Linked DNA regions of Homo sapiens. The protein of the gene in region 1 purifies or fractionates together with the protein of each later gene. This does not show direct contact. Each region holds a gene or a part of one and is shown in the gene's direction. Other genes may lie near its edges.

What was found. Proteins that work in one complex are often made in the same cells at the same time.
Region 2: the proteins of RGL4 (region 1) and DCX purify together in Homo sapiens (affinity purification with mass spectrometry; 2 studies listed by BioGRID and IntAct, with this or other methods). This does not show direct contact.

The regions. Positions count from the first base shown.
Region 1 is NC_000022.11:23,696,841-23,699,668, forward strand, and holds the end of RGL4 (ral-GDS-related protein), read left to right. Parts: intron 1-330; coding exon 331-405; intron 406-997; coding exon 998-1,021; intron 1,022-1,371; coding exon 1,372-1,493; intron 1,494-1,714; coding exon of another isoform or gene 1,715-1,805; intron 1,806-2,003; coding exon 2,004-2,043; coding exon of another isoform or gene 2,044-2,273; 3' UTR 2,274-2,328; downstream 2,329-2,828.
Region 2 is NC_000023.11:111,402,193-111,405,692, reverse strand, and holds part of DCX (neuronal migration protein doublecortin), read left to right. Parts: intron 1-3,500. UniProt on the Homo sapiens protein: Microtubule-associated protein required for initial steps of neuronal dispersion and cortex lamination during cerebral cortex development. May act by competing with the putative neuronal protein kinase DCLK1 in binding to a target protein.

The DNA.
Region 1 (2,828 bases):
AGACCAGAGGAAGGGTCTGGGAAAGCTGGACTCAGACTAGATGTGGGGAAGGGTAAAGCTGGGACCACAGGCCTTTGTGACTTGTTAAAATCCCACCATAGAGGTTAACAAGGAGTGCTTGCTAGACTTGGAGGTCAGCTGGGATACAGGAGGCAGAGAATTGGGAAAGGCAGCTGAGGGTCTTTGGCTGCTCCAACCGGGAGACCTGAGGAGGGGGCTCTGGGAGACAGGGGCTGATGGGATTTCATGGGACAGGACCTTGGGCAGGCACCTGAGGGCCAATACTCATCACCACTACCCCTCCCACCTCCCCACCCCTCCTTGGCACAGGGTGTGGTCCCCTTCCTGGGGGATTTTCTGACTGAGTTACAGAGGCTGGATTCGGCCATCCCGGACGACCTGGATGTGAGTGAGCCTGGGGCAGGGTGCTTGGGAACCAAGATCCTGAAGCTTGGGAGGAGAGGGTCCTGGACCGAGCCTTTAGATCTCAGCCCTTGGCAAACCTCCTCTCCTAAGAGCCTCACAGCTGCTCCTGTGGGTGGGGGTGTCAGGCCCATCTCATCACCTCTGAGTGATGGAGGCTCCATGGCAGCCACCAGGCCCTATTCCTGAGTGGTGAAGCTGCAGAGCTGCCTGACTGCAAAGCTGCTGAGGTGTGGGCTGAACTGGGCTCAGCTTCTCCCTAGGGTAGTCCCGTAATAGGAGGGTGAAATTGAGCCTCTCCAAGGGCAGGCAGTTCCAAGGTCACTGAGCGCTTTCTTTCTATGAGAGACCTCAGTTTCCCTGTCTGTCATCACAGAGGGTTGGGGCAGAAGGTCCCTGGGCCTCAGCTCCCATTCCCCCTGCTCTAGAGCCCGGAGCCTGAGGCAGGTCCAAGTCCTGTCGTGTGCACATCCCCTGACCCTGGTGGCCCTGGCAGTAGTGCAGCATGGGAAGGGGTGGGGTGGGGCTGGTTGTGGGCCAGGGGCCTTTCTGATGGACTCTGTCTGCCTTCCAGGGCAACACCAACAAGAGGAGCAAGGTGAGCAGCTGGGGCACTCACGTTGGATGAGGGTGGGGATGTGGACGTCACAGTCCACCCTGGGCAGGACACTCCCTGGCTCCATCCTCTACATCTTAGGCTTACTGGGAGTGTTTGACACACACAGGAGGAGGGGACCTATCCCAGGAGAAAATGGGAAAAGCACTGGAATCAAAGACCAATTCCTGCAGGAGGGGCTGTTTATATCCAACTCTGAGAACAGGCTGGGGGCGCTGCATGGGACCCCTTCAGAAAACTGCCCCAGGGACCAGCCCCTTCTCCCTGCCTGCCAAAGGCCCCCACAGCAACTTCCACCCAGGCCCTGTCAGCATCCTGTCCTCTGTCTCTAGGAGGTCCGAGTTCTGCAGGAAATGCAGCTGCTCCAAGTGGCTGCCATGAATTACAGGCTTCGGCCTCTTGAGAAATTTGTCACCTATTTCACAAGAATGGAGCAGCTCAGTGACAAAGAGAGGTGAGGGCCTAGCCCATGGGCTGAGGGTGGGAGAAGGCTCTCCATTTTTTTTTTTTAACATGGTCTGGCTCTGTCGCCCAGGCTGCACTGCAGTGTCACCATCTCTGTTCACTGCAACGTCTGCCTTCTGGGCTCAAGTCCTTCCTCAGCCTCCCAAGCAGCTGGGACTACCGCTGTACACCACCATGTCCGGTTGTTCTGCTGTTGTTGTTCTGGTACAGATGGGGTTTCACGATGATGTCCAGGATCGTCTCAAACTCCTGGCCTCAAGCAATCCACCCACCTCAGCCTCCCAAAGTACTGACGTTACAGGTGTGAGCCACCCCACCTGGCCTAGAGGAGGCTCTCCCGTGGCCAGCTGCAGAGAGCCTATGGCCATGCCTCCACGGCCAGCATCAAGCCCTGTTGCATGGGGACCACTGGGGACCCAGGATTCCAGCTGGGCAGGCACTGACAGGGGACCTGATGTGTGGCTCATGGTGGCCTCACAGCTGCTTCTCTGTCCTGCAGCTACAAGCTGTCCTGCCAGCTGGAGCCCGAAAACCCGTAGGCTGGCAACATCCTGCAGTGGCTGGGAACCCACCGGGATGCTGGCCAGAACACCGGCTCTGCACCATCCCTCACCCAGACCGTAGACACCAGGGAACCACATCTAGGAGGCTGGCAGCTCAGCTGCATCTTGCCCTGGATCCTCATCACCAACTGCTCCTGCTGGCCAGGATCAGGCCATGGGACTTTTGTGAGTCAGGCGGGAGACCATTTTATGTTTATTTTCTTTAGTGTATAAGTAAGGGTTTTTTCTTAACTTTCGTTAAAATAAAATTTTAAAAAACTATTCAAAATGTTCTGTAGTTGTTGGAATGAGAAAAGTAACTCCAGTGCGGTAACCATATACCAGTCTTTAGGATTCATAGCCTAGCATGTCAAATTGAGGCTATGGCTGAACAAGTTATGGAATAGCATTCACATTACACATGCCAAGCATTTAATGTTTTCCTTCTTTATTCAAATTATTGTTAACTCTGCTTAAGAAAACAAACAGAACAAAACAAAACCCCTTAAAAGCCATAGTATGTCACCCAATCTATGTCACCCATAGTATGTCACATTTGTTCTACTGACCAGCTATTCTCAAACTTAAATTCTAGTTAAATTCAAGTTCCACTGGGTTACTCAATTTTCTTAAGGTTTAAATATTTAACAAATCACTTAAATATTTACTGAAGGGCTGGAGATGGGAGGTATTTAAGCAAGTGGTAGGGCTGGCCTTCTCCAGAAGTCCTGGGCAGAAGGGAGCTGGCCATCAGTCTCCACGAAATACAGATAAACTTTTTC
Region 2 (3,500 bases), on another chromosome or scaffold:
TTATTTTTTTTAGAATCTTTCTCTTTCCCTTTATATCTGGTCCAATTCTTTCCCCATTTTCTTGTATGTAAGTATCCAGATCAACCTTGGGGATATCATTTATGACTAGCCAGCTTTTCTGAACCCAAATTGAGACAAGTTCAAGAGTTATTACACAGACCATGGGACAGAATATTTACAATTGGAACAGTCTTAGAAAATCCGAGCTGTGTAGTCACACTGGCTATGATCCAGTTCTTTTACCATAGCTCATATGTTTCATTGAGATGAATCCACCTTCTCACTAATTTATTCTCTAACTACTAAAGCAAGTACATTGTCAAACACAAGAATTTTAAGATACCTGGGAGGGATGCATTGCTAATAGATATGATAATCAAATGTCATTTAATATTTTAATATAATACAGTAAAGTGTCATTTAATATATTCCTTCTTGAGTCAGGAAGCCCTGGAGAAGAGGAGAAAACCCAGGCAGAAGCTTGCTTTTGCACTGAGAAGATACAAATATATATAAAATGCTTTTGAAAATGCAGCCTTCTTAAAGAGAAGGGAGGTAGACATTAGATCATCTCCAGCCCACAGCTTGTTTCATTTCTGCCCTTTCAGCTGTGCTTCCATGATTTCATTCCTTATCCCCTCACCCTAAAGCAGGTTTTTAGTTCCAGCGAATTTGCACCCTGCTTGGCTGTGAAGCCAGCTTTCCCTCTAGGCCCCCAGCTGGTAGGAAATAGCCCTTGGAAGCTGTGGCAGGATGGGAACCCAACTGTGTAAAGGTGCGACACACCTCATCCAGCTCCAAGTGCCAGGCAGCAGGAAGTGCAGGAGGCACTGAGCTCTGGCAGCAGACATTGAAAATGCTGGCAAAATCAGGACAAGGAAGTCTTAGTCTAGCAAAGAAGAGCATTTGATGTCTTTCTAGCAGAAGTGAAGAGTCCTTGGAGGTGGGCAGCTATTTTCTTAACATTTAATTATCCTAACAGCTTTGTTTTCTGAAGCCTGTTTGAGAAGGAAAAGAGAAGATTCCTCCCTATAGACTCTAGGACCTAGAAGGGACTCAGGTGTCACCTAGTGCATTATCTTTGCTTTAGAGAAGGCAAAGCTGAGACTCAGAGACATTAAGTGATTTCCCTGAGGTCACACAGCTTTTAAGTGCCTAGTTGAGATTTGAATCCAGGTCTGTGTGACTCCTAAGTCATCACTCTTGACGACGATAAATATCCTGCTCTCAGCGGGCCTCTGCAGAGGCAGCAGCAGCTTTACTGGGTGTTAGCATAAATCTCCTACATTTGGCATTTGCCACAACTGGAAGCCTCCTTCCAACCAGCAGGAAATCTTATCCTTGAATCACAGGCCCCCAGCAGTGCTCATGTCATATCATAATCACAGCTCAGTTCCTAGATGGTTGCCCTTGATACTTTCTCTTTTTTTTCCTCTTCAGCTTCTATTCCTCTTTTTAGTCTCTTTCTCTCAGCAATTTTTTCCTCTTTTCCTCTTTGCTCTTTCCTTCTTGTTCTCGCTTCTATTCCGTAAGATTAGGGGCTTAATAATAACAGAAATTTATCAAGTGCTTACTATGTTCCAGGCTCTGGGATCAGCATTTTATTTTATTTTATTTTATTTTATTTTATTTTATTTTATTTTAAGACGGAATCTCACTCTCTCCGTCACCCAGGGTAGAGTGCAGTGGTGCGATCTCAGCTCACTGCACCCTCTGCCTCCCAGGTTCAAGCGATTCTCCTTCCTCAGCCTCCCTAGTAGCTGGGATTATAGGCATGTGCCACCACGCCCAGCTAATTTTTGTATTTTTAGTAGAGATGGGGTTTCACCATGTTGTCCAGGCTGCTCTTGAACTTCTGATCTCAAGCGATCCACCTGCCTCAGCCTCCCAAAGTGTCAGGATGACAGGCATGAGCCGTCGCACCTGGCCATGGGTTGAACACTTTTTATCCATCATCTGATTTGTGCCCCACAACAACCCCACAAGATAGGTATTCTTATTATCACCCTTGCTTTGCAAAGAAGAAACTGAAGCCAAGGGAGGTTAGAGTGCACAACTAGGAAGTGTTGGGGACCCCATCCTGACTGACATCACATCAGCTGCGCTTTTTCCATTACTCCATATTCAGCCCAACGAGAGAGTGGAGTGACTAAAATGTACCACTGGAAGGTGCTCAACATAGATTTGGCTGAGGCTGGGCCCTCTGGAAAGTTCTTGGGTGCTATATGATACTATAGCTGTCAGTCATCATGTTCATTTTCATCTGGAGACGGTTAATCATACTCATACTCCAGAGGCTTAAGAGGTTTAAGAGATGGGAGCAAAAAAGTCCAAAGTCCTAATAGGGCTACACAGCTGACTCTCCAGAGGAGACTGGATGAGTGAAATCATAAATATATAGCTTCACACATTTCCACACCACCATTTGTCTGACAGTTTTAAAGTACATGACAAGTTATGGAAAACATCTGACTCAAAGGCAGTGACCTCCTGCAAGGTGCCAGTGAATCTGGTGAACTGCTAAGTCAAGAGACCATTTCTAGGGTTATGGGGGTTATTGGCTGTGAATATATGGAGACACTAAAAGGGCCCCTTCCTTCATCCTTTTAAGTCAAAAATTAAAGACCCCAGCCTATAATTACTTGGGTTGGGTTGAATTAACCAGCAAGGGAGTCAAAGAAATCAGAGCTTCTCTTGGCTGAGGTATTGACCATCTCATCCTGGGTGTCCATGTATGCACCAAGTGGGTAAGGGTGCCTATCCTCACTTAAAACCATCCCTTTGTCCCCCTGTCAAGATAGAACTCTGGGACTGAGGGCAGCTTTGGAAGTCACTTTGCTTATGTTGGATGCCACTTACCCTCCCCCTCCGCACACACACACACACACACACACACACACACACACACACCACGCACACACACACACACATACACACACACATAAATGTCCTCAAAGGTACACTAGAGATTTTGACTGAAACTTCTCTTAGCATTACTGAGAAATTTATTCATTAACATGTCTTAAAGGATTTGGTGCTATGGCAAAGCAATAAATATTTGCAAAGGGAGTGAATTATCAACCTGGTGTTTCTGAATGCAGTTCTCCTGCTGAGACCAAAGGAGAGCCATCAGACTATAATTGTGTTTAATGCTTTCTGTGCACTGGCTAGGGTTTATTTATTTATTTAGGGTTATTACCGATGACTTAAGCCTGATTAAATCACACTGTTTCTGCAGCTCAACCTCTCAATGAACTTCTAGATACCTTGAGGCTAATGTGTTTTACTCAACGAATTCAACCTTTTCCAGTATTCTCTTCCCCAGGCTGAGCCTATCTCTCTTCCTATTTTCTTCAGCTCATAGTCCCAGGTGTCCAGTCCCCTCCTCTTGCCTCTGATCCCTGCATTTCTTTTGCGATATTAGTCATTTCCTCTAGCCCAAGGTAAATGTGAAAATTACACTAGATCCTTCCAATCCATAAATCAGGCTGTATAATGTA